Linked DNA regions of Homo sapiens. The protein of the gene in region 1 purifies or fractionates together with the protein of each later gene. This does not show direct contact. Each region holds a gene or a part of one and is shown in the gene's direction. Other genes may lie near its edges.

Region 1 (8,054 bases):
CACACCTGTAATCCCAGCACTTTGGGAGGCCGAGGCGGGCGGATCACGAGGTCAAGAGATTGAGACCATCCTGGCTAACATGGTGAAACCCCATCTCTACTAAAAATACAAAAATTAGCTGGGTGTGGTGGCACGTGCCTGTAGTCCCAGCTACTCGGGAGGCTGAGGCAGGAGAATGGTGGGAACCTGGGAGGCAAAGGTTGCAATGAGCTGAGATTGTGCCACTGCACTCCAGCCTGGTGACACAGTGAAACTCCATCTCAAAAAAAAAAACAACATGAGGCCTCAGAAATGTAGCTCCCAAAACCCCCTACCCAGGGCTGTGCAGAAGCCAAACCAGGTTCCTATTTTCCCAGGATGATGAACAGTTTTCAAAGCTTAGTAGGATTGTGGGTGATTTTGTCTCATTGTCTGTTGTTTTTCCATTTTTCTAGATCATATATATATAATATTTATACTATATATAATATGTATATAGTGTGTGTATATATATATATAATATGTATATATTAGGTCAAGTGTAAATAAAATCAGGGACAGGGTTGGAGCGCAGCAGGAAAGAGCCTGCTGGGGATCAGAGTCTCTGGGCTGTCAGGGCCGGGCTGGGCGGGCTCCGTTGTTAATGGCTTCCCCTCATCTTGCAGGAGCCATGTGGCTAGAAATCCTCCTCACTTCAGTGCTGGGCTTTGCCATCTACTGGTTCATCTCCCGGGACAAAGAGGAAACTTTGCCACTTGAAGATGGGTGGTGGGGGCCAGGCACGAGGTCCGCAGCCAGGGAGGACGACAGCATCCGCCCTTTCAAGGTGGAAACGTCAGATGAGGAGATCCACGTAAGGCACCTTGGGCCGGGCCGGGCTGGGCAGTGGAGAGGGTGGTGTGTCGAAGACAGGGGTTGGGTCTTAGGCCAGATGCGGGAGGGGACGGGGGCTTGGGAATGGTCCATCCTACTTGGGAGTGTGTTTCAGTCTGCTTTTCCTCTGCTGGGCAGGTGCAGGTTGCTTTGGAGAGGGATGCCCAGCCCTCCCACTTTCTCTCTTCTCCTTTCCCTACCCAAGGCCCAGCAGTGCTCAGGCAGGAGATGGGGTAACCTGTATCAAAGGTCACAGAAAGCAGCTGTCATCACCTCCTCTATGCCCTGCCTGAAGCCTTGGGAGTGAGGTTGTGGGAGAAAGTGAGCAGGTTCCCGTCAGAGACCCAGGAAGCACTGAGAAGGCAGGGATGCTACTGGTTAGGCACCGGCTGTGTGTCAGCCATTCCTGGTCACATTCAATCCCTACGGTGATCCCGCGGGGTGAGGATTGTTGTTCCCAAACTGCAGATGCAGAAGCTGAAGCTCAGGGGCATAAAGCAACTCGTTCAAGGCGGCCTAGCTAACATGCGGAAGGATTTGAAGTCCAATCTAATCCTGAAGCTGCTGCCCCTCCTCTGCACAGGGATAGAGTCAGGAAGGAGGTGACTGGGCAGGTGGGGTGAACTGAGAATGCATTCTCGGGGAGGAGCAAGGCTTGAGTGGGGGACAGGACGGTAGGCAGGCCTGGCATGGCCCTGCCAATCCTTTCTTTCATTCCGTGGGTTTTGAGCACCTACTGTGTGCAGGCCCAGTGAGTGCTTGGGAGAAGAGACAGCCCCTTCCGTCCAACAGCATACAGTCCAGTGAATGAGAAAAGGAATGTGCACAAAGAAAAGTAGACTAAAAGATAAATAAAGATAGGCTAGGTGCGGTGGCTCACGCTTTTAATCCCAGCACTTTAGGAGGCTGAGGCGGTGGATCACCTGAGGTCAGGAGTTCAAGACCAGCCTGGCCAACATCGTGAAACCCCGTCTCTACTAAAAATACAAAAAATTAGCCGGGCATAGTGGCGGGCACCTATAATAATCCCAGCTACTCGGGAGGCTGAGGCAGGAGAATCCCTTGAACCCAGGAGGCAGAGGCTGCAGTGAGCCAAGATCACACCACTGCACTCTAGCCTGGGCAACAAGAGTGAAATGCCATCTCAAAAAAAGAAACAGATGCATAAGGATAAATGTCACAAAAAGCATGGATAAAAGTCATGAGAGTTCCAAGGAGGAAGAGATTTAAAAGCAGAAGCTGGGCTAAACCCAAGAGCAACCAGGCTGAGGCTCCCTGGGTAGGACTTGCTTGCTGCAGCCTTGCTATTTAGGGCCAAGGCTGAGCCCTAAGGAAAGCTCCTTTAGGGAATTAGACTCCTAAGGGAGTCTGAGATTTCCAAAATCTGTTTGGGGGTAACTGAAACACTTGGGAAGAAGCCTGGGAATGGTGATGCTTGAGAGGCTCTCTAAGCTGACATGAACTTCCTCCCTCTGGGGCTGGCCTTTTAGCCTAATACATGCCAATGAGACTTGCACCCTCTCTCCTGGTCTGTAAATTTTTTAGTTTTTGGAGACAGGGTCTTGCTCTGTCACCAGGCTGGGGTGCAGTGGTGCGATCTTGGCTCACTGCAACCTCCGCCTCCTGGGTTCAAGCGATTCTCCTGCCTCAGCCTCCCAAGTAGCTGGCATTACAGGCACCTGTCACCATGCCTGGCTAATTTTTGTATTTTTAGTAGAGATGGGGTTTCGCCATGTTGGCCAGGCTGGTCTCGAACTCCTGACTTCAAGTGATCCACCTGCCTTGGCCTCCCAAAGCACTGGGATTACAGGCGTGAACCACCGTGCTGGGCCTGGCCTGTAATTTTTATCCCAACTCAGTTATAATGTATCATTCAATGTTGTATATCAGGGGTCAGGAAACCAGGCCCATAGACCAAATGTAGCCTGCTACCTGTTTTAGCACAGCGCCCATGCCAAGAATAGTGTTTACCTCTTTAAATAGTTAGGGGGAAAAAAATCAAAAGAAGAATAATAGTTTGTGACGTGAAAATTATATAGCAGTCAGATTTCAGTGTCCATAAATTTTTATTGGAACACAGCCACCCCCATTCATCTGTGCATTGGCTATGGCTGTCCATAAATAAAGTTTTATTGGAACACAGCCACCCCCATTCATCTGTGCATTGGCTGTGGCTGCTTTCACACTATGAAGACAGTGGAGTCACTGCAGCCTGCAAAGCCTAGAATATTTACTATCTGGCCCTTTACAGAAAAAGTTTGCCGACTCCCGCTGTAGAGACGCCTGGGTAAATTAAAGATGAGTATCGTGTATACACTTAAAGAGTAAAAGATGAGCTGGGCGCAGTGGCTTACACCTGTAATCCCACCACTTTGGGAGGCCAAGGCAGACAGATCACTTGAAGCCAGGAGTTCAAGACCAGCCTGGCCAACATGGCAAAACCCCGTCTCTACTAAAAATGCAAAAATTAGCCGGACATGGTGGCTCACACCTGTAATCCCAGCTACTCTGGGAGCTGAGGCATGACTGGCTTGAACCTGGGAGGTGGGGGTTGCAGTGGGCCGAGATCACGCCACTGCCCTCCAGCCTGGGCAACAGAGTGAGACCCTATCTCAAAAAAAAAAAAAGAAAAAAGAAAAAAGAAATGCGAAGTCTACAGTGAAGAAGGAAGAAGTGAAGAACACATCCGCTTTGGGAGTAGCCAGTGATGTGGGAAACTGCCTTGCCACTCCCAGAGGGCAGTATCTTGTGGCTGCAGGGTTTGCTGTGTTTTCTGGAAACAGACTTTGCTCTTGTGCTCTGTCCTTCCCATCCCTCTCAACTTGGGGTCCTGAATTTTGCTCCAGGACTTACACCAGAGGATCGATAAGTTCCGTTTCACCCCACCTTTGGAGGACAGCTGCTTCCACTATGGCTTCAACTCCAACTACCTGAAGAAAGTCATCTCCTACTGGCGGAATGAATTTGACTGGAAGAAGCAGGTGGAGATTCTCAACAGATACCCTCACTTCAAGACTAAGATTGAAGGTATGTTTGCAAAACGCCAGCCAGAGAGGGATGTATGTCATGAGAACAGCCTTCTTCCACAATGTGACTTACAGTCAGATAAAGTTGGAGAGATTCAGAACCCAATTATAGGTGACTGAGATGTACTTATACGTTGTAACCTTACTAAATGCAAAAATATTGCAGTCACAACAAATCTGTCCATCTTTAGAGCTAGGCAGGAACACATACATGCAATTTAAAAACCAAAGAAATGCACCATCCAGTCCAATGATGTGGCAATCTTTGAGAGGAAGGATGGAGATGAGATTTAGACCCAGGCCAAGTGGGGTGGCTCAGAACTGTAATCCCAGCACTTTGGGAGGCTGAGGTGGGTAGATCACGAGGTCAAGAGTTCAAGCAGCCTGGCCAAGATGGTGAAATCCCATCTCTACTAGAAATACAAAAAATAGCCAGGTGTGTTGGCAGGCAGCTGTAATCCCAGCTACTCTGGAGGCTGAAGCAGAGAATTGCTTGAAGCCAGGAGGCGGAGGTTGCAGTGAGCCAAGATCGCGCCACTGCACTCCAGCCTGGGCTCCATCTCAAAGAAAGAAAAGACTCTGCTCTCAGTTCTTTTGGATCTATACTCAGAAGTGGACTTGTTGGATCATACGGTAATTCTGCGTTTAATTTTCTGAGGAACCGCCATACTGCGTTCCGCAGCAGCTGCACCATTTTACTTTCCCACCCAACAATGCCTCAGAATCCCGATTCTCCAAATCCTTGCCAATATTTTTTTCCTTTCTTTTTTTCGGTAATGGTCATCCTAATGGGTATGAAATGGTATCACATTGTGGTTTTGAGTTGCATTTTCCTAATGATTACTGATGTTGAGCATTTTTTATGCGGTACTTATTGGATTCTTTGTAATTTCTCCGAAGAAATGTCTGTTCATGTCTTTTGTCCATTTTTTGGGTGTTTTATTAGGGTTTAGGAGTTCTCTATATATTCTGAATAAAATCTCTTATATTTGCAAATGTTTTCTCCCACTCTGTGGGTTGCCATACAATTAATCTTTTTCAGAGACAAGGTCTTGCTGTGTTGCTCAGGCTGGAGTGCAGCGGCTATTCACAGGCGTGATCATGGCTCACCACAGCCTCGAACTCCTGGGCTCAAGCAATCCTCTCGCCTCAGACCTCCTGAATAGCTGGTACTATAGGCGAGCACCACTGTGCCCAGCTTGTTAATTTTTTATATTGAAGAAATTGTACATGTTAGGAATCTTATTTTTAATGTTTTAAGATAATTTGGCCTTTTCAAGGAACAGTGAAGATTTTAATTTGTTAAAATTCTAGGAATTACTTAAAGTGTATGAAAGACATGTTGGTCAGTCAGATAAACTAAAGTTCCTAAAAAAAGGAAATTGAAATTATAGTGTTAACTGGGTGTGGTGGCATGCACCTGTAGTCCCAGCTACTCAGGAGGCTGAGGCAGGAGGATTGCTTGAGCCCAGGAATTCAAGGCTGCAGTGAGCTACAAGGACACCACTGCACTGGGTGACAGATCAAGACCCCATCTCTTAAAAAAAGAGAGAGAGGCTGGGCACGGTGGCGCACGCCTGTAATCCCAGCACTTTGGGAGGCTGAGGCAGGTGGATCACGAGGTCAGGAGGTTGAGACCATCGTAGCTAACACGGTGAAATCCTGTCTCTAATAAAAATACAAAAAATTAGCCAGGTGTGGTGGCGGGTGCCTGTAGTCCCAGCTACTCGGGAGGATGAGGCAGGAGAATGGCGTGAACCCAGGAGATGGAGCTTGTGGTGAGCTGAGATCACACCACTGCACTCCAGCCTGGGCGACAGAATGAGACTCTGTCTTTAAAAAAAAAAAAAAAAAACAGGCTGGGCGCCGTGGCTCACGCCTGTAATCCCAGCACTTTGGGAGGTCAAGGCGGGCAGATCACAAGGTCAGGAGATCGAGACCATCCTGGTCTAACTTGGTGAAACCCCGTCTCTACTAAAAATACAAAAAATTAGCCGGGCGTGGTGGCAGGCGCCTGTGGTCCCAGCTACTTGGGAGGCTGAGGCAGAAGAATAGCGTGAACCCGGAAGGCGGAGCTTGCAGTGAGCCCAGATTGCGCCACTGCACTCCAGCCTGGGTGACAGGGCAAGACTCTGTCTCAAAAAAAAAAAAAAGAAAAAAAAAAAAAGCCGGGTGCGGTGGCTCACACCTGTAATCCTAGCACTGTGGGAGGCCGAGGCGGGTGGATCCCAAGGTCAAGAGATCGAGACCATCCTGGCCAACATGGTGAAACCCCGTCTCTACTAAAAATACAAAAATTAGCTGGGCATGGTGGCACGTGCCTGTAGTTCCAGCTACTCGGGAGGCTGAGGCAAAAGAATTGCTTGAACCAGGGAGGCGGAGGTTGCAGTGAGCCGAGATCGCGCCACTGCACTCCAGCCTGGCAACAGAGCAAGACTCCATCTCAAAAAAAAAGGGAGAAAGGAAGGATGGACGGAAACCTCGACTTGGAGGTGCCAGGGCAGCAAACATCCTTGTTCTGATGCAAGCAGGCCAGGCCTGTGGGAGAATGAGCCAGAGAAAAGCTAAGTCAAATCCCAGTGGTGTGTGTCCTGGAACTAGAGCCCATCCTGGAGCTCAGCCAAGAACACTAAAAAAAAAAAAAAAAAAAATCTGGAATGATTTTTTGGATCAAATTTGGACTTCTCTTGAGTGTTGCTGTATTCTTTACAGTAATTTGATATCTTCTATTATGAGCCTAACAAGAGGATCCAAGCCACTTAATCCCAGCCAAACTGCTGTATGCAATTACCATAGGTTCCTGTTTGGATTCCTGGCACGAAATTGCCTGGCTTCCTTGAGTTTGACTTGGATCCCTGTGTTGTCCCAGCTCTTCAGTGTCCATCCAGCAGAAACTAACAGGGCGCCTGCTGTACCCAGGCATTCTGCTGGGGCTGGGGACGCATAGAGAGGACAGGGTCCCTCCTTCACAGCTCATAGGCTCTTCAGGGGCAATTCCAGCACATAGTGGCGGTGTTCTGAAGGAGGAGGCTCTGGGAGCTTCATGAGCCCCACAATCTTCCTTTGAATGTGAGGGAAGGCTTCCTGGAGGAGGTGGCATCTAAGCTGAAATGAGTGGGACTTTGCCAGGTGTGTGGGGAAGGTGGTCCAAGAAAGGGGAACAGCATGTTCAAAGGCCCAGAGGCAGGAGGCAGTAAAGGGCCCTTTCCATCCTGGCAGCTGCCAGCCTTACCCCACTGGACCCTTTCAGGGTTCTTCATGAGACTGGGTTTTTTTTAGAGACAGGGTCTCACTCTGTCAGCCAGGCTGGAGTGCAGTGGTGTGATCACAGTTCATTGCAGCCTCAATTTCCTGAGCTCAAGCGATCCTCCCACCTCAGCCTCTCAAGTAGCTGGGACCACAGGTATGCACCACCACACTAGGCTTTTTTTTTTTTTTTTTTTTTTCTTGAGACGGAGTCTCGCTCTGTCACCCAGGCTGGAGTGCAGTGACGCAATCTCGACTCACTGCAAGCTCCGCCTCCCAGGTTCACGCCATTCTCCTGCCTCAGCCTCCCGAGTAGCTGGGACTACAGGCGCCCGCCACCATGCCCAGCTAATTTTTTGTATTTTTAGTAGAGACGGGGTTTCACCGTGTTAGCCAGGATGATCTTGATCGCCTGACCTCGTGATCCACCTGCCTCAGCCTCCCAAAGTGCTGGGATTACAGGTATGAGCCACGGCACCCGGCCTTTGTTTTTTCTTTCCTTTTTTTTTTTTTTTACATTTTTAGTAGAGACAAGGTCTCACCATGTCACCCAGGCTGATCGCAAACTCCTGGGCTCAAGCAATTCTCCCACCTTGGCTTCCCAAAGTATCAGGATTATAGGTGTGAGCCACCACACCCAGCTGACATTGGGCATTTATGGTACAAAACCTCCCTCAGGTACAACGGCTCCAAAAGAGCCAGTTTCCAGCATTGAATTCATCGTGGACTTACCCATGTGTGGTTCTGGCACCCTGCCCGGGGCTGGAGGCCTGTTCTTGGCCTTGGTCCTTTAGAATAGGAGTAAATTTGGCAACATAGGAGGACACCCAGGATACATTGTTAAGTTAAAAAAAAAGAGATTCTAAAATAGAATGTATGTATGGTTCTATTTTTGTTAAAAGTTATGTTCTCTAAGTCTTTTTAAAAAGT
Region 2 (8,054 bases), on another chromosome or scaffold:
CAAAGGACCAAGATGATGAGGTAAGGAATTCTCATTTGAGTCTCACTTTTCTCTATTACTAAATAGTTTTAAGTCTTCAACCATTCTCTGAATCTTGAAATATATTGGTTAATTTATAATACAAAATGGAAAATGAATTATACCATTTGAGAATAGAAAATATTAATGGAAAGGACTGTAATGCCAGTAGGGGGAGATCAGGGATAACTTTATGGAGGAGCTGGACACTGAAAGATATTATTTGACTAATAAATTCCTGACTTCTATTATCTTTGAGTCGTTAATAGGAACTGACCTTTCAGGTTCTACTTTCTTGTTCTTTTAGTTGATTGTTTCCAAGTTTTTGTGGGGATATATTTCTTTAGAAGTTTTTCTTGATCCCTTGGTGCCATAGAAGGACACACACAAGAAAGTGATTTCAGAGTGCCAACTTCCCCCCCTTTCCCTCCCCGCTCCATCCTATTGGGTGGATCTCCTTCTCTAGGGTGATCCCTTGATGATGATGGATGAGGAGATCTCAGTGATTGATGGAGATGAAGGTAAACTTCTAGGTCAACTAGTATAATTCTGTGTGGGGTGGTGGGTTGGGGAATTATTCACTGAATTCTGTCCTATCCTGGGATTTCTAAGAGCTTTGCCTTTGGGTGGGTTAAAATACTAGTATTGCCTCTACTACCCTTGCTATACTTCCTATTCATTCTACTTTGTTTTCCACAGCCCAGGTGACCCAACAGCCAGGCCATTTATTCTGGCCTCCGGGCTCTGCCCTAACAGCTAGGCTTCGGCGTCTAGTAACAGCGTATCAGCGCAGCTACAAGAGAGAACAAATGAAGATAGAGGCTGCAGAACGTGGGGACCGGCGAAGGCGGCGTTGTGAAGCAGCCTTCAAGCTGAAAGAAATTGCACGGCGGGAGAAACAACAACGGTAAAATATAGCTGGGAACTTGTGCTGATCTGTGTTTTCAGTTATGGTCCCTATACTGAAAGCCATCTCAGGAAGGATTTATTTGGAATTCTCTACAGAGGGACCATCTTTTCTGCCTTGGGTAGTTAAACCTGTAGAAATTAAAACCTCACTTGCATGCAGTAATCATTAACTCTCAGGTAGGTCTCCTGTGTAGACATTTTCATTGATATTTGTCTGTGTCTTTTCCCCCTTGGCTCTGTAATTCTTACTCATTACAGAGTACCTCTCACTACCTCTTCTGGGCCTTTTTTTTTTTTTTTTTTTGCGTCTACTTTCAATTTTTGTGTTTTCAGATATTCTAAAACACATTAAAAAATAACCAGTTTTCTTGTGTTCTTCTGATGTGTTCTTCTGATTATTGTTGCCCTACTTTTCCTTTTGTAGATGGACAAGGCGTGAACAAACTGATTTTTATCGAGTGGTGTCTACGTTTGGTGTGGAATATGACCCTGACACCATGCAGTTCCATTGGGATCGCTTCCGCACTTTTGCTCGACTAGACAAAAAGACAGATGAAAGCCTTACCAAGTACTTCCATGGCTTTGTGGCCATGTGCCGCCAAGTATGCCGCCTTCCCCCAGCAGCTGGAGATGGTAAGCAAGATTGCAGAGTGGGTGAGGATGGATGCCAACAGAAGCAACTCTGTTAATTTCTTCTACTCCTGTCTCTTGCAGAACCCCCCGACCCTAACCTGTTCATTGAGCCCATCACTGAGGAGAGAGCCTCACGGACTCTCTACCGTATAGAATTGCTTCGGCGCTTACGGGAACAAGTTTTATGCCACCCCCTTTTGGAAGATCGGCTGGCATTGTGTCAGCCTCCTGGTCCTGAATTGCCCAAATGGTGGGAGCCTGTTCGGCATGATGGGGAGCTTCTAAGAGGGGCAGCCCGCCATGGGGTGAGCCAAACAGACTGCAACATCATGCAGGACCCAGACTTCTCTTTTCTGGCTGCCCGTATGAATTATATGCAGAACCATCAAGCAGGAGCACCAGCTCCATCCTTGTCACGCTGCTCTACTCCACTGCTGCACCAGCAGTATACCTCACGCACTGCCTCACCACTGCCCCTGCGCCCAGATGCTCCTGTTGAAAAGTCACCCGAGGAGACAGCTACCCAGGTCCCCAGTCTGGAGAGTCTGACTTTAAAGCTAGAGCACGAGGTGGTGGCCAGGAGCCGACCAACCCCACAAGACTATGAGATGCGAGTATCCCCCTCTGATACTACCCCTCTGGTTTCCCGGAGTGTTCCACCAGTCAAACTGGAGGATGAGGATGATTCGGACTCTGAGCTGGACTTGAGCAAGCTGTCACCATCTTCTTCTTCTTCCTCATCCTCATCCAGCTCCAGCTCCAGCACTGATGAGAGTGAGGATGAGAAGGAAGAGAAGCTAAGTGAGTGCATGTGACAGGCTGTTGGCCCCCTTCCCTATTTCCCCCTCTCTTCTCTTTCCCTTTTCTAAATGCATCCTCTTGAGAGAGATTTGGATTTTGATTTGATAAAATGTCAAAAGAGTGCCATTCTTTGGGCCTTTATTCAAAGCCCATATAATACCATTACCATATGACATTATTCTTCCATCTTTTCTCACACATTCTATGGGCTCTCTTACCAGCTGACCAGTCCCGCTCAAAGCTCTATGATGAAGAGAGTCTCCTGTCCCTCACTATGTCCCAAGATGGATTCCCAAATGAAGATGGAGAACAAATGACCCCTGAGCTTCTGCTACTGCAGGAAAGACAAAGAGCCTCTGAGTGGCCCAAGGTAACAAACAGCCTCATCCCTGGACATGTAGAGTCCAGAAATACAGTGTAACAGTATATCCGGGGAAAAAGGAACATATGGTTCTGGATTTTTAAAATTGTGTTTATTGCTGCAAGTTTTTTTTTTTTTTTCCAGGAAACTTCCCAGTTGACTTAGGAATCTTAATAGTATTAACTTCCTCTTTTCTGCCTTATGATTTTTACCCATCCTGGTAGTGATGGCACTATTGAGTATCACAGGATCACACAGCTAGTACTCAGACTCTTAAAATGGTATTTCTTTCTTTCCCCATTCAGGATCGTGTCCTGATAAACCGTATTGACCTCGTCTGCCAGGCTGTACTCTCAGGGAAGTGGCCTTCTAGCCGTAGGAGCCAGGAAATGGTAACAGGAGGAATTTTGGGGCCAGGCAACCACTTGCTAGACAGTCCCTCATTGACTCCTGGAGAATATGGTGACTCTCCAGTCCCCACACCACGAAGTAGTAGTGCAGCTTCCATGGCAGAGGAGGAAGCATCTGCAGTCAGCACAGCGGCAGCCCAGTTCACCAAACTTCGCCGAGGCATGGATGAAAAGGAGTTTACAGTTCAAATCAAAGATGTAAGCTCAGCATTTGGGCATTGGGAAGTGGGGAAGGAGGCTGGAATCCTTGCTGTAACTAATTTTACTAATAGGTTACTAAACTCATTTGGTTAGCTAATTTTAAAAATGAGAAAACAGAGCTTACAAAGATCCATTTAGGAAGAATCATTTTTCCTGGTTGTTTTCCTTATTGAACCCTATTGATTATTAATCCTATTAATATTCAACAAAAGTTTCTTAAATTAGTATGCTTAGGAATAGCAGGATTTTGCCCCTGTGATGAGTTGCCATGCTAATACGGAGACACCAGGTAGGGAGTTTTACCCTAACTTGGGTGTTGTTGAAATAAACTCTTTCTCGTAAATGCTGAGGGGCACTAGGTGAAGAAGTGAAATCTTTCTAAGGAAAAAGTGTGTATGTTTTCTTGTATTTCTAATTTTACCCTTTAGTCAGATGGCCTTCCTTCTCACCATCATTGGGCAAGAGGATGACCTATAGCCCACATCCCTCAAAGCTTAATCTTTACTTTGAAAAACATGTACCATATGATGTCTTGGGTGGGTGGGTTGTCTTCCTAGGAGGAAGGATTGAAGTTAACATTCCAGAAGCACAAGTTGATGGCGAATGGAGTAATGGGAGATGGACATCCACTGTTTCATAAGAAGAAGGGGAACAGAAAGAAGCTAGTAGAGGTGAGTGGTAGAGAAAGTCTTTAACCTGACGATTAGATTGTCTTTTTATTCCCAATAATTGATGAAGGCAGTGGGACTGGGGGAATGGAAAATACTAGAGTCATTTCATGACTACCATTGGCCCTGCTCCCCCTCCCTCCCTCCCCCAAAGAAGAGTATGTGCTCATGGGGGTGGATTCTGGGTTTGCAGCTGGAGGTGGAGTGCATGGAAGAGCCTAATCACCTTGATGTGGACCTGGAGACCCGGATCCCTGTCATCAATAAGGTGGATGGTACTTTGCTGGTGGGTGAGGATGCCCCTCGCCGGGCTGAACTGGAGATGTGGTTACAGGGTCATCCAGAGTTTGCTGTTGATCCCCGATTTCTAGCGGTGAGTGGCAGTCCCATCCAGCAAGATTTAAAGTCATTCCTTTGGTATTTAAGCTGCATGAGAAAGAGAAAGCATGACATACTGTATCATCGTTTCTGTATCTGCAAGATAAGGGTAATAATTAATAATACCCAGTCTTCCAACCTCACAATTGTTGTGATGCCCAAAATAAAATAATGTTGAAGTACTTTAAGTGCTAGGCAAATATTTACTATTGAACTATTATATAAACCACCTAATATTTTTTGGAGAGATCCCACTTAATGGCAGTTTTCCACTAGGATGAATCCTTTATCTATGTAATAAGTGTTTATTATCAAACAAAAGACACTAGTACTTTAATAATTACTCCAGAGAAGATTTCTATTCCTCTAGGATAACTGATTTTTTCTATTGCAGTATATGGAGGATCGCAGAAAACAGAAGTGGCAAAGATGTAAAAAAAATAATAAGGCAGAATTGAACTGTTTGGGAATGGAACCAGTACAGACAGCTAACTCTAGAAATGGGAAAAAGGTGAGAGAAATTGCAGCATTACCACTCTATTCCCACACTAGATGTGAGATTACAAGTCTTTCAATGATGATTGTGACTAATGTTATTTATCTTTTTTCCTATGTTTGTTTGTGTGAAGAATTATCTTGAGTTCACCAATAAGGAAACCGGAGTTTTCTGGGGTTTTTTTTTTTTTTTTGAGACGGAGTCTCACTCTGCTGTCGTGCAGTGGCGCAATCTTGGCCTACTGCAACCTCCGCCCGCCGGGTTCAAGCAATTCTCGTGCATCAGCCTCCTGAGTAGCTGGGATTACAGGCACCTGCCACCGCGCCTGGCTAATTTTTGTATTTTTAGTAAAGATTGGGTTTCACCATCTTGGCCAGGCCGGTCTTGAACTCCTGACCTCGTGATCCACCCGCCTCGGCCTCCCAAAGTGTTGGGATTACAGGCCTGAGCCACACTGCACCTGGCCCAGAGTATTTTTATCAGTATTTTTGCAGTCCTGTGGTATCTTCATCTCTAGGAGAGCATAACATTCTAAAAACTAACTTTAGTACTTGATGCATATGAAAATTTAAGAATTAGTAAGATGGGTTAGAGAGAACATTCAGATCTTACTCTGTTCTTCTATTGAATAACTAAGGGATTTTGGACAAATCCTTTAACCTCTTCAGTTTTTACATCCTGAAAAGTGAGGGTTTTAAAGCAATTTCTTAAGTTTTCTGTTTTTTTGAGACATGGTCTCACTCTGTCACCCAAGCTGGAGTGCAGTGGCACCATCTCAGCTCACTGCAACTTCTCCCTCCCCTGGTTCAAGCCATTCTCCTGCCCAGCCTCTCAAGTAGCTGGGATTGCAGGCGTGCACCACCAGGCCAGGCTAATTCTTTGTATTTTTAGTAGGGACGAGGTTTCACCACGTTGGCCAAGCTGCTCTGGAACTCCTGGCCTCAAGTAATCCACCCGCCTTGGCCTTCTGAAGTACTGGGATTACAGGCTTCAGCCACCGCACTCGGCCTTAAGTTTTCTAATTCTATATATTTTAGAAGTGTTTGGAGAGGTCTTCTAAGGAAAATAGTCATGAGATTTCCCAATATATAAAGGTTGAGAATCACTAATAATATGTCAGTAATGGAAAAAGCAGAGGAAACTGTTTTGTAATTCATAATAAATTTGTCCATTAAGTTATTCTATATTTTCAAATTTACTTATACTTTTATGATGGATAATAGGCCATTTGGTGGACTAAGTACCCACAGTTTATTCTTTCCACCAAATTTCAACTGCAAAAGTTTCTCTTGGCTATGCTTACCTTACTTTCTGCAATAGTTGTATTTGTTTTTTAATCTTTTATTTTTTTGAGACAGAGTCTTGCCCTGTCACCCAGGCTGGAGGGCAGTGCCACAATCTCAGCTCACGGCAAGCTCTGCATCCCCGGTTCAAGTGATTCTCTTGCCTCAGCCTCCCAAGTAGCTGGGACCACTGGCGCATGCTACCATACCCAGCTAATTTTTGTATTTTTAATAGAAAGAAGGTTTTGCCATGTTGGCCAGACTGTTCTCAAACTCCCGACCTCAGGTGATCCACCTGCCTAAGCCTCCCGAAGTACTGGGATTACAGGCATGAGCCACTGTGCCTGGCCAATAGTTGTAATTTTTTTTTTTTTTTCCTGAGACGGAGTCTTGCTCTGTTGCCCAGGCTGGAGTGCAATGGACTGATCTCAGCTCACTGCAACCTTTACCTCCCAAGTTCAAGTGATTCTCCTGCCTCAGCCTCCCGAGTAGCTGGGATTACAGGTGTGTGCAACCATGCCCAGCTAATTTCTGTATTTTTAGTAGAGACGGGGTTTCACCATGTTGGTCAGGCTGGTCTCGAACTACTGACCTTGTGATCCACCCGCCTCAGCCTCCCAAAGTGTTGGGATTACAGGCGTGAGCCACAGCGCCTGGTCAATAGTTGTATTTTTAAAGCATACATAAATCATTGTTTTAAATGACATAGAGTCATTTAAAATGGATTAGCACTTGTATATACTTGCCTTATCTAATTATTCCCCCATTTGATCTTCTATAGAAATCTTTATACACATACAGTCATCCCTTGGTATCTGTGAGGGATTGGTTCCAGGACCCCTGCAGATACCAAAATCCATGGATGCTCGAGTCCTTTATATATAAAATGGTGTAGAGCCAGGTGCGGTGGCTCTTACCTGTAATCCCAGCACTTTGGGAGGCTGAGGCAAGAGGATCACTTGTGCCCAGGAGTTCAAGACCAGCCTGGGGACCCCAGTGGGACCTTATCTCTACAAAAAATTAGCTGGGCGTGGTAGTGCAGTCCTCTAGTATCAGCTATGTGGAAGCTGAGGCAGGAGGATCACTTGAGCCCAGAGGCTGAGACTACAGTGACCCATGATCATGCCACTGCACTCCAGCCTGGGCAATAGAGTGTGAGACCCTGCCTCAAAAAATAAATAAATAAATAAATAAAATCATGTAGTATTTCCATGTAACCGACACACTTCCTCTGATACACTTTAATCTCTTGATTACTTATAATACCTAACACAATATAAATACTATGTAAATAGTTGTTACACGGTATTGTTTTAAAATCTGTAGTATTTTCTCTTGTTATTTTTTAGTTTCTTGTTGTTTTCAAATATTTTCAATCCACAGATGGTTGAATCCATGGATATGGAAGGCTGACTATGTGCATACACATATATTTATGTGTCTATATAACCACATGGAATATCTTTTAACAAAATTAATTTTAAAGTAAACTATCAATATTTTGCATTTAACAAGTTTGAAACATAAAATATATGTAGATTTATGAGGCTTATTTTTATATTAATGGAAGTGTTACCATGGGAGAATGTTTCAGTTTTCCCTGTTAGCCTCGATGAGAACAAGAGTGCAATAAACAGAATGGTTGATATGGGAAAGGCTGGTGGCTAGAAGGCTAATGCCATCTCTGTCTTTAATTTAACATTATAGAGCAGCCTGTAAGAAGGGCTTTTCCTTCACTGTTACCTATTTTTACCTCAAGTACTTCTGCTACTCCCTTATAGTCAACTGAAACTCTTAAGAAATATCATAGAAAATCACAGAAAATCCTAATATGACTAGTACAGAATTCTTTTTTTTTTTTTTTTTTTTGCTTGAGACAGAGTCTCGTTCTGTAAC
Region 3 (3,592 bases), on another chromosome or scaffold:
CAGGTCTAGATGAGGGGTTCTCATTTTGGGCACTGTTGACAGTTGGGTCAGAGGATTCTTTGTTGTGGGACTCCCCTGTGTATTGTAGGATATTCAGCAGCGCCTCTGGTCTCTACCCACTAGATGCCAGTGACACTCCCTACCCCATGAGTCATGTCCATCAGAAATGTCTGCAGACATTGCCAGATGTGCCCTGGGGAGCAAAATCATCCTTTTCCTTCGCTATTGAGAACTGCTGGTCTAATACATGGCCTTAAACATAGTTGATACTTAATATAAAACAGCTTCCTAGCTGAGGCGGGTGGATGGCTTGAGCCCAGGAGTTTGAGACCAGCGTGGGCAACATGGCAAAACCCCATCTCTGTAAAATACAGGAAAAAAAAAATCAGCTGGTCATGGTGGCATGCGCCTGTAGTCCTAGCAACCTGGGAGGCTGAGGTGGGGGGATTGCTTGAGCCCGGGGAGGTCGAAGCTGCAGTGAGCCATGATCACACCACTGCATTCCAGCCTGGGTGACAGAGTGAGACACTGTCTCCAAAAAAAAACAAAATAAAAACCAAAAACAGCTTCTTTCTTGCACAAGCTCCTCGTTTTGGTTTCTGTGTAATGAGGAGAAGGAGATGTGTCTAGCTGTGGAGCCTTCCAATATTAATAACAATTTTTAATTTCTCACATTTACACAAGACTTTCTTGTCTGGTTTTTGTTTTTCTCTTTAGTAGAGACAGAGTCGGGTGGTCTCTAACTCCTAGGCTTAAGCGATCCTCCCGCCTTGGCTTCCCAAAGCACTGGGGTTACAAGTGTGAGTTACAACCAAAGCGCTGGGGTTACAAGTGTGAGTTACAGGAATAAGCCACAGCACCCAACCTACACAGGACCTTATCATCTCCAAAGCACTGTTGTGTCTATGACACTGTTTCTCACTCTACAGATAAGCAAACTAAGCCTCACAAAGGTTAAAAGACTTGTCTAAGACCATCACCCGCTTCTCCACCAGGCATCAGAGAAACATCCATGCCAGAAATTGTTTGAGAAACAACTGAGTTCTGGGCCTTCTTCAGATTAGTTATCAGGGTCTTTCGAAACTTCAATGGCATGCTCTTTGGTCCAGCAATCCCACTTTGAAAAATCTCACACAGAAATGCTCACACTTGCACTGACATAACATAAAAATGTCCATGGCAGAGCTTGCAACACTGGTATGGGAAGGGATTACAGTATATGCATTCATGTGGGAGAATGAGTAGATTTTAGATGAATGAGGTGGATCCACATTCCTGACCTTGAAAGGTTCCTGAGTCATATTATTTAGTGAAAAAGATAAAGTCACAGAATCAACATAGCCAGTATGATCCTATTTTTTTTTAAATGTAAATATGCATGAACATGGATAGTTAGGGAAGTGGGGAATTAAAAGGACCTAGATAGTATGTATGTATGAGAACATATTCCTGGGGGAAGAAGAAGAAAATAAATCTCCGCCAGCTTCCCATGCATTAAAAATGAGCAAAGTGGGCTGGCCACCTTGTCTCACGTCTGCGATCCCAGCACTTTGGGAGGCTGAGGCGGCAGAATCACTTGAGCCCAGGAGTTTGAGGCTGCAGTGAGTTGTGAGTGAGCCACTGCACTCCAACCTGGGCAACAAAGGGACACTGTAAATAATTAATCATAAGATAAAAATTAAAATGAATAGAGCACAACCCACAGAGGTTGAGAGACTTGCTAACACCAGAAGTTGCCAGTGGTGAAATTCAGCTTTGAGTTTGCTGATAGTTACGGGGCCAAGAGACAGGAATCTGAGGCTCATCTCAGCAGGCCAAGCCTCCTTCCTTACTGTGGGGAAATTCCTTCTCTGAGCACCTAGAGGGATCCTGGTGTCAGACTGACCTCACCTGAATCAGGCTTCCACCCACGTGATGACCTCAGGCCAGCCACTTTAACTCTCAGTGCCTCATTTCTCTAACTTTAAAATAGCTAAAAGGCAAAGGAAAAAACATGAAAGCCAAAAAAAAAAAAAAAGGTAGAAGGAGGAGGCAATAGTAGAACCTCTCTCATTGGGCCGCTGTGAGGATTACATAAAACCATGTGTTCCGACCCCCAGTACTTAGTAGGTGCTTAATTAACACGAGCCCTGGTCTCTCCTGCCTTTTTCTCTGCTTGCCTGCTCCTTGCCAGGATGCAGAAGACAAAAGCCTCAGAAAGGACAGTGGGGGCTCCTGAGGCCCCAAGAATGCTTAGCAGGCTGAATCAGTTGTCCTCACTTCTTCACTTTGCCCTCTGATCCACCATGACCACTCTGCTGCAGGAGCTTTTAACAGAAAGCCTGGGAGAGCATTCTGAGGGGGTCTGTGCTATAGCTCTTCCTCCCTGGGGTCTAACCATCCTTGCTTTCTCTAGACACTCCACACATTAAACTGTCTTGCCCGTTGCAGGGATGGGATGGCATCATGTGGCCTCTAATTACACATCCCTTCAATAATAAGATTGACTCTCCAAGGGCAAGTTTTCCTCCTCCTTCAAAAGCTATCTCACATTGCGTCTTTTACAGGTAGTCTTCCCCGACCCTCCCCCACCTCCAGCCAGGAAAACCATTTCTCCTCCTCCCAACTCCTGTCATCCACATCCTAGACTTCCTGGGTCTGCCACATCCTATTCTTCCTGGGTCCATCACATCCTAGATTTCTTGGGTCCATCACTGTTTGCTGGATTTCTTCCCAATCCATAATTGCCTGGAAGCAGCCATCACATCCATCACATTTATTCTTGTGTCTTAAATGCATAGCACACTTCCCTATGCACACAGTAGATATTCAAGGAGCATTGACTGAATGCAGAAAAGTATTTTTTAAATTGGGGTAAAATACACATAACATGAAATTGACCATTTTCATCATTTTATTTTTATGTATTTTTTTGGGGGGCAGGGGGAATCTTGCTCTGTCACCCAGGCTGGAGTGCAGTGGTGTGATCTCGGCTTACTGCAACCTCTGCCTCCTGGGTTCAGGCAATTCTGACTCAGCCTCCCAAGTAGCTGGGATTACATGTGTGGGCCACAACCACGCCCGGCTAATTTTTTTGTATTTTTAGTAGAGACGGGGTTTCACCATGTTGGCCAGGCTGGTCTTGAACTACTGACCTCAAGTGATCCGCCTGCCTCGGCTTCCCAAAGTGCTGGGATTACTGGCATGAGCCACTGCGCCCGACCTCCATTTTTTGATTATTATCATTGGGGTCACTGTGGCAGGTGTGAAGCAATACCACATTGTGGTTTTGATTTGCATTTCCCTAATGACTGATGGCATTGAGCATCTTATGTGTTTGTTGCTTATTTGTATATTATCTTCAGAGAAATGTCTACTCAAGTTCTTTGCCCATTTTTGAATTGAGTTGTCTTTTTGTCTTTTTGTTCTTGAGCTGTAAGAGTTCTTCTTTTCTCTTTTTCTTTTTCTTTTTATTTATCTATTTTTTTTTTTGAGACAGAGTCTCACCCTGTCTGTCACCCAAGCTGGAGTGCAGTGGCATGATCATAGCTTACTGCAGCCTTGACTTCCCAAGCTCAAACAATCCTTCTGCCTCAGTCTTCCAAGTAACTGG
Region 4 (8,054 bases), on another chromosome or scaffold:
TCCTGATACAGAGCTTTCATGTCTTCTTTCTGGGCTCACCCTCCCAATGCATCAGTATGTTTACAAACCAGGAATTTGAGCCAAGTTTTGGTGTTCAAAATTTTTATTAGGGTTTTTAAATTATGTAGGTGTGATTGATGGAATCATTGGCCACATGATTGAACTCAATTTCCTTCCCAGAGGAGCTCAGGCTGGTGTTGCTGGCTCAAAGCCCCAGCCCTCTAATCACATGGTTGACTTTTTTTTTTTTGAGACAGAGTTTCGCTGTTGTCGCCCAGGCTGCAATGCAATGGCACGATCTTGGCTCACTGCAACCTCCACCTCCCGGGTTCAAGTGATTACACTTGAACCCGCGAGTGGCTGGGATTACAGGCACCCGCCATCATGCCCAGCTAATTTTTGTATTTTTAGTAGAGATGGGGTTCCACCATGTTGGCCAGGATGATCTCGATCTCTTGACCTCGTGATCCGCCTGCCTTGGCCTGCCAAAGTGCTGGGATTACATGTGTGAGCCACCATGCCCGGCCACATGGTTGACCTTTACAGCACAGCCAGCACCCATCCAGAAAGTATCTAGGAGTTACTTCATTAGCATAAATTCAGGCACGGTCCCAGGAGCTCATAATGAATAACAAAGACATCCCTGTCACTTGAGGAATTCCAAGGACTTAGTAGATCTCAGGAGCCTGGGACGTGGACCAGACAAATTCTTTATTATATAACACTCAAACACCTACACTGATCAATTTTCAACTGAAGACTCTAGGGAAGCCCTCTGCAGATCTTTGTAGGTCTCCTCTTTGTAGCTCTCTTCTCTCTGGTGCTCTGCCTTGCAAATTCTGGCTGCTTTGGCTTTCTCAAATTCTCAACATTTTCTTTTCAACACAGTGGGACCACTGAGCTCTATTTTGCATTCTTTTTTCCTGCAAGGTGGCCCTAGAACTGTCCTCGGAAATGTTTTGCCTATTGTCCAGTGTCTGAAAACCATTGTTCCATATATTTGGTTCAGTTTGTAGTTATCTGAAATGGGAGAATAAATTTATTCCATTTTACTCTGTCATGACTAGCGGAAGTCTGTTCTTTCTATTTAGAAAGTTTTTTTAGAGATGATTAGAATGGCATAGTACTTTTAGCTAAATCATCCAAGAAAGGTTGTGTGTCATTTGCTCCATATGAAGTGAAGTCTAATTCTGAACTTTGGAAGCCTTTCGTTATCAAACTCCTAGTTTATCAGATGCAGATTAAAAGGATTTATGTGTGTGTGTGTGTGTGTGTGATATACACACACATGCATATACAGAGGTATCTGTACATATTACATATGTACATATCGTAAAAGATGAAAATATATATCTTTTTATTTTCTGAAATTCTTTGACCCAGACTCAGGTAGCTAGTAGGATTTCCCATAAATTATAAAGTTTAGATAGTTTAGTCCACAAGTTTACCCACTGTCAATTCTAGATTGTTTCAGATTTTAAGTTTGCTTGCTAAGATTGAAATTCTCATATCTCAGGGTTTGCCTTTAAAGTAAAAATGTACAGAGGCTCCTTTCGCTCTAAAGAGAATAAGCCTTTGATATAGCTGTTTGAATTTACAGGGAAATAACTTCTCAAATATTAGTAGTTCTAGTGGTATTTACTTGTTAACAAATACCCCACATTTAGACTATCTTTGCCCAACTGTCTTTTCTTTTTTCTCTAACTTGTTGTAGTTGCAAATGAAGGGTAAAAATAATTGATTTATAGATGTGCTTATCATTTGTCGATCCAGAGTTTTATGAGGATTATTTTTAGTTCAAATTAAGAATTTCAGAGAGAGTGAAGATCTATGCTATAATCTTTACTATTTTGTAGTAACGAGTCATTTTATTTTTATTTTTTTATATGAAGGAAAGTTTATTAAGGATTATTGACTTATGATCACAAGGTGAAGTCCCACAAGAGGCCATCTGCAAGCTGAGAAGCAGGAAAGCCAGTCCGAGTCCCTCATTTTTAAATACTGTGTTTTCATAGAGAAACCACGAAAAGAACTGATCAAATTCATCAACTTTAGAGTACTTATATAATTAATGTATATTTTTAAAATATACCCAAATTGAAACAATGGTTAATGGTCATAAATCAAGTAAAATATTAATGTCTTCCTTTATAATTTTTTTTTAGTACAACACCTCAGGTATTGAGCCCCACTATTACATCTCCCCCAAACGCACTGCCTCGAAGAAGTTCACGACTCTTTACTAGTGACAGCTCCACAACCAAGGTAATTTAAAGATTTCTGTATGTCACATTTACTTAATGCTTCGCCTGCTAACATTTCTGTTCATTGATGACTCCATTCCTAATAAGTTAACAAAGAGACTATTTCGAATTTTAAAATGTTTTAATTTAGAGGGCCATCTATGATTTTTGTGAAGTTAATTAGTCCTTTGGTAAATATTATATAATATTCTTTTTTAATTAAAAAATTTTTTTTCTCAAGTTAAAAATGACATAGGAATAATCTTGAAATGGCAAAATTATAGGAATGGACAACAGATCAGTGATTATTAGGAGTTAGGCCTCTAGGGAGGATGTTACTATTAAATCATGGCACAAAAGAATTGCATTGTGGTGGTACAACAGTCCTGTATCCTGATTGTGGTGGTTGATTACACAGATCCATTCACGTGATAAAATTTTATAGAACTATGCACACACATACACACACACGGGTTTATATAAAAACTGATGAAATCCATGTAAGGTCTTTAGCTGATAATATTGTACTAATTTCAGTTTCCTGGGTATGATGATATACTATGGTTATGTCACATGTTATCATTTGCAGAAGAGTGAGTCTAAAATTATTTGAAAATAAAAGTTAAAAAAAACTGGAGACCCGGCGGACGCAGTGGCTCACGCCTGTAATCCTAGCACTTTGGGAGGCCAAGGTGGGCCGATCACTTGAGCTTAGGAGTTTGAGACCAGCCTGGTCAACATAGCAAGACCCCATCTCTGAAAAAAAAAATTAGCTGGGATGGTAGTACTCTTTGATCCCAGCTGCTTGGGAGGCTGTGGTGGGAGAATCACTTGAGCCTGGGGAGGTCAAGGCTGTGGTGAGCTCTGATTACATCATTACACTCCAGCACGGGCAACAGAATAAGATCCTGTCCCAAAAACAAAACAAAGGCCGGGCACGGTGGCTCATGCCTGTAATCCCAGCACTTTGGGAGGCCAAGGCAGGCAGATCACCTAAGGTCAGGAGTTCGAGACCAGCCTGACCAACGTGGAGAAATCCAGTCTCTTCCAAAATAAAAATTAACCGGGCGTGGTGGCTCATGCCTGTAATCTCAGTTACGCGGGAGGCTGAAGCAGGAGAATCGCTTGAACCCGGGAGGCAGAGGTTGGGTTGCGGTGAGCTGAGAATTACATCTACTTATTTTCTTACTTTTAAATAATAAATGAGAGTTTGATATACTTTCACAAGAGGGCTACACTTAATGCTGACACACCTTAGTCACTATTAGTTAATGTAATTTATGTTCAGAATTACTGTGTTTAAAATTAAATGACTTTGAAGACCTTTGTTTTTATAAACTCTCTTCTGAAAAAAATATAGAATTAATCAAGATTGTACATTTATTTTATATCTAATACTGGAGAAAGGGCTGAGGAGAAATCTAAAATACATGAGTATAACAGGTGTGAAATTTCTTCCCTTTTACAGGAGAATAGCAAAAAATTAAAAATGAAGTTTCCACCTAAAATCCCAAACAGAAAAACAAAAAGTAAAACTAATAAAGGAGGAATAACTCAACCTAACATAAATGATAGCCTGGAAATTACAAAATTGGACTCTTCCATCATTTCAGAAGGGAAAATATCCACAATCACACCTCAGATTCAGGCCTTTAATCTACAAAAAGCAGCAGCAGGTCTGTTTTAAATGCTTAATATTATCTTTGTATTTTATTATGTACTTATTTTAAGTAAATTTCTTTATGTTCATTACAGTACCTTCATTGTTTTTTATATAGATGTTGGAATTTTTAATAGATTAGTTTGTAATTACCTTTTCTAGAGAAGCAGACTAGTTTATTGCGTTTTTTCCTTTGTTTACTATGTTGTTTTCTCCTAGAAGGTTTGATGAGCCTTCTTCGTGAAATGGGGAAAGGTTATTTAGCTTTGTGTTCATACAACTGCAAAGAAGCTATAAATATTTTGAGCCATCTACCTTCTCACCACTACAATACTGGTTGGGTACTGTGCCAAATTGGAAGGGCCTATTTTGAACTTTCAGAGTACATGCAAGTAAGTATAGAAAATGGTTATATATGCCTTTCTAGAGATAATTTCAATTTCATTAAAATAAATGCCCATGCTTAAGAAGGCTAGATCTAAAAGATCAGTATTTATTATGTAATGTCTATATATTTATTTTGTCAGTATTTATAATTTATAGATATAGTTCTTTCTTGTGTTAAGGAGTAATTTAAATTCTTTGCAACTTCTCGGAATAGGTTTATAGAGACCCAAGTCATCCAGACATTCTTACGTAGAGTGTGTCCTATTCAGTTGTGTCTGAAAATACATATTTATATTTACCATGTAATAGGATTTATTTATTTTTCTGCAATATACAGAGTTAATTACTGGGGTGAATTTTTGACATCGAATATGTTTTATAAGCTTGAAGAATGCTATAAAGAAAATTGTGCTGAATTGAGGACACAATGTCTTTAATACAAGGCTTTTTACTCTTTGGATTTTAATTAAATTTGTTGCTTAAGTTATCTGTCTATACCAGAAAAGGAGAGAATGATTAACCTAAAGCCAAAGAAAATTCTAATTCCCAATTTATATTACCCCTTAGTTCTTCCCAAAGCATTTTCTCCACCCCCAACTTAAAAAAAGAAACCTTTTAGAAACCTATATATTAATAAAATATCTCTAATATGGATTAAAGTTGATATGATTCGTTTTTTGCTTAATTTGCTTTCAGTTCATTTATTCAATATATATCTCTGTGCATATGATATCCTGGACTCTCTTCTAGACTCTGTATTACAGCTAGTCAGACAATTTCTTGCCTCTGTGGAGCTTACATTCTAGCAACAGACAGATTATAAGCCAATAAATGTATAAGAACAGGTAGCAATAAGTCATGAAGAAAAATGAAGCATGGTGAGGAAACTGGGAGACAATGAAGTATGGTGTTTTTGTTTTTATGTACTCAGAGGGAAGGTTACTCTTCCCTTCATGATCCATGCAAAGATCTAGGGGAAAGGTGTTCTTTCCCACAGGGAATACATACAGAGGATACCTATTCATATAATTTAATTTTGAATAGTACAGAACAGAGAGTTGAAGACAGAAAGTCTTATTCATTGCTACAAAACCCATGTTTCGATTATGGTCCTTTACTGGTATGTAGCATATACACAGACAGGCAAGAGCTGTGTTCGGAAAAGCCATTTAAAAAATTATTTCTAATTTATTGTTTCACAGCTACTTTAACATAAATGAATTTTATTGTTTCCCCTAGTTATAGTGGTGACCCAAATATTTAATTAAAGAAAGCCTCTGTTTCAACTTAATTTCTGAGTTTTTTTCCCATTTTTCTTTTTGTCTATGCCATAATCATTTTTCAGAGGAAGCAACAGATTCTGAAAACTTTGAAACCAAAAGGTACCTACCTATATTTGGCTGGTAGGTCTTTTATCTTGTTACCATGCCTGAATGAAAAACTTGGCCAGGTGTGGTGGCTCATGCCTATAATACCAGCACTTTGGGAGGCCAAGGAAGGGGGATCACTTGAGCTCAGGAGTTGGAGACCAACCTGGCCAATGTGGTGAGACCCTGTCTCTACAAAAAAATGAAAAAATTAGCTGGGTGTGGTGGCACTCACCTGTGGTCCCAGCTACTTGGGAGGCTGAAGTGGAAGGATCACTTGAGCCCTGCAGGTCAAGGCTGCACACTTACCTTTATAACTTTTAAGAGATTGCAAGGAAGTTACAAATCGTTAAGCTATTCCTATATATCATATGACCACTTCTTGGAATTAAGCACTCAGTTTTAAAATGCTCTTATTTTCTGTCATACTCATTTCATTAAGAATAGTCCAGATATTCCTTATTATAAACTAAACTGTGAAAATTTCTTTTCCTTTCTTTTTTTTTTTATTACCTAGACCTTTTCTGGCAGCTGAGAATTTTGAACTTGGTAAATTGATAAACTAGGAAACTGATTTTATATAACCTAAATCCTCAAACTTTAGAGGGAGAGAAACACAGTTCTGGGAGCTGTGAATGTGATGAGGAAAAAAATTGATGAGGCAGCTGAGGAGAGACCCTGAAGTCAAGAGAGTGCTGCAAAGGAAAGGATAATTAATAGGTAGGGCCTATGATTCCTAGCAGACACAATATTGGTGTGTATATTCAGGGCTCAATAGGATTTATAACCATAGGATTGATAGCCAGCTTAACCTGTTTCTTCCCTCTAAATTTTCTGGCACAACCTCTCGGTAAAAATTGTTCAAAAATAGATTTTATGTTACAGAAATCATTCTTCCATCATCTTTCCTAAAAGAGTTATTCTGGCCAGGTGTGGTGGCTCATGCCTGTAATCCCAGCACTTTGGGAGGCCGAGGCGGGTGGATCACAAGGTCAGGAGATCGAGACCATCCTGGCTAACATGGTGAAACCCTGTCTCTACTAAAAAATACAAAAAATTAGCCAGGTGTGGTGGCAGGCGCCTGTAGTCCCAGCTGCTTGGGAGGCTGAGGCAGGAGAAGGGCGTGAACTCGGGAGGCGGAGCTTGCAGTGAGCCGAGATTGCGCCACTGCACTCCAGCCTGGGCGACAGAGTGAGACTCCATCTCAAAAAAAAAAAAAAAAAAGAGTTATTCTGTAATGCCATTATTAAAACTTGGAAATGAGGTTTTTGAGAAGGAAATATTGACTTTTCTTTTGAATTGTAGCTTTGTATAGATTTCTCTTCGGTCTTTTTGGTAGAAACTCAAATTTCCTTTTCAGAGTTCATGTTCTTACCATGGCTTGTATATAAATACTAGGTTGACTGTCAATATGGTTACATCACTATTTGACCTGCCATAGTAGATTGCTGAATTTGTCCTTGTGTTAATACTCATTCACATAAAAACCATAATACAAGGCAGCATTTAGATCCTGTGAAGATAATGACCAGGGCTTTCCCTGTGTATATATATAAATTGTATCAACTTGTTTTCTCTTACTAGTTTTTTTTATTTCAGGCTGAAAGAATATTCTCAGAGGTTAGAAGGATTGAGAATTATAGAGTTGAAGGCATGGAGATCTACTCTACAACACTTTGGCATCTTCAAAAAGATGTTGCTCTTTCAGTTCTGTCAAAAGACTTAACAGACATGGATAAAAATTCGCCAGAGGTATGTTAACCAAAATACTTTGCTTATATAGTTACCTTTTTGATCACCCTCAACAGATAGAGATGAACCAAGCAATTCAAACACTATTTAGTGTCACCCACGCTTATTTCTTTTTTTTCCTCTCTCTCTAGTCAGGGACTCAGAGAGGAAGAGAAAGTCCTAGAATGTGTGGTGCAGATTCACAAATAGAAAAATCACAAAGCAGCTATTTCATTCAGGATTTATCGAGATTTGACTACGTTAAATTTGCTGTTGTCACCAAGATTAGGGTTCGTTGAGCAGAAGTTACATAGATTGAAAAAATTAATAATTTTAAATTAAAATAAATTAGTATTGTCATTGTAAGACATAGGTGCAATTAATGTACATGCTCTAATCTTGTAAGATTGTATTTCATTGCATCTCAAAAATATTTAATGATACTTTTGTAACATATCTAAGCTTAGAATTAAACACAGTCAACTCCCATTATTTGCGGTAATTCTGTAGTCAACATGAACACTGAATTAGTGCTACTGAACCAATGTTCCTGGGAGTGATGGAGAGTTTGAAACAGAGATAGATTGTGGATTATAATCTTGAATCCTAAAAATAACTCATCCTGGTAGATCCTATTTTCTTTACAAAAGAGAGAATGCTGCTGGG

Evidence for each region.
Region 2: the proteins of EPHX1 (region 1) and CHD8 fractionate together in Homo sapiens (co-fractionation; one large-scale study listed by BioGRID). This does not show direct contact.
Region 3: the proteins of EPHX1 (region 1) and ABAT purify together in Homo sapiens (affinity purification with mass spectrometry; one large-scale study listed by BioGRID and IntAct). This does not show direct contact.
Region 4: the proteins of EPHX1 (region 1) and CDC27 fractionate together in Homo sapiens (co-fractionation; one large-scale study listed by BioGRID). This does not show direct contact.

The regions. Positions count from the first base shown.
Region 1 is NC_000001.11:225,828,081-225,836,134, forward strand, and holds part of EPHX1 (epoxide hydrolase 1), read left to right. Parts: intron 1-644; 5' UTR 645-649; coding exon 650-832; intron 833-3,698; coding exon 3,699-3,879; intron 3,880-8,054. UniProt on the Homo sapiens protein: Biotransformation enzyme that catalyzes the hydrolysis of arene and aliphatic epoxides to less reactive and more water soluble dihydrodiols by the trans addition of water.
Region 2 is NC_000014.9:21,387,783-21,395,836, reverse strand, and holds part of CHD8 (chromodomain-helicase-DNA-binding protein 8), read left to right. Parts: coding exon 1-20; intron 21-484; coding exon 485-539; intron 540-717; coding exon 718-925; intron 926-1,351; coding exon 1,352-1,560; intron 1,561-1,641; coding exon 1,642-2,361; intron 2,362-2,582; coding exon 2,583-2,731; intron 2,732-3,027; coding exon 3,028-3,330; intron 3,331-3,583; exon of another isoform or gene 3,584-3,686; intron 3,687-3,890; coding exon 3,891-4,004; intron 4,005-4,030; exon of another isoform or gene 4,031-4,194; coding exon 4,195-4,374; exon of another isoform or gene 4,375-4,427; intron 4,428-4,773; coding exon 4,774-4,890; intron 4,891-8,054. UniProt on the Homo sapiens protein: ATP-dependent chromatin-remodeling factor, it slides nucleosomes along DNA; nucleosome sliding requires ATP. Acts as a transcription repressor by remodeling chromatin structure and recruiting histone H1 to target genes.
Region 3 is NC_000016.10:8,677,525-8,681,116, forward strand, and holds part of ABAT (4-aminobutyrate aminotransferase, mitochondrial isoform 1 precursor), read left to right. Parts: intron 1-3,592. UniProt on the Homo sapiens protein: Catalyzes the conversion of gamma-aminobutyrate and L-beta-aminoisobutyrate to succinate semialdehyde and methylmalonate semialdehyde, respectively. Can also convert delta-aminovalerate and beta-alanine.
Region 4 is NC_000017.11:47,138,094-47,146,147, reverse strand, and holds part of CDC27 (cell division cycle protein 27 homolog), read left to right. Parts: intron 1-2,165; coding exon 2,166-2,265; intron 2,266-3,711; coding exon 3,712-3,919; intron 3,920-4,122; coding exon 4,123-4,295; intron 4,296-7,256; coding exon 7,257-7,409; intron 7,410-8,054. UniProt on the Homo sapiens protein: Component of the anaphase promoting complex/cyclosome (APC/C), a cell cycle-regulated E3 ubiquitin ligase that controls progression through mitosis and the G1 phase of the cell cycle.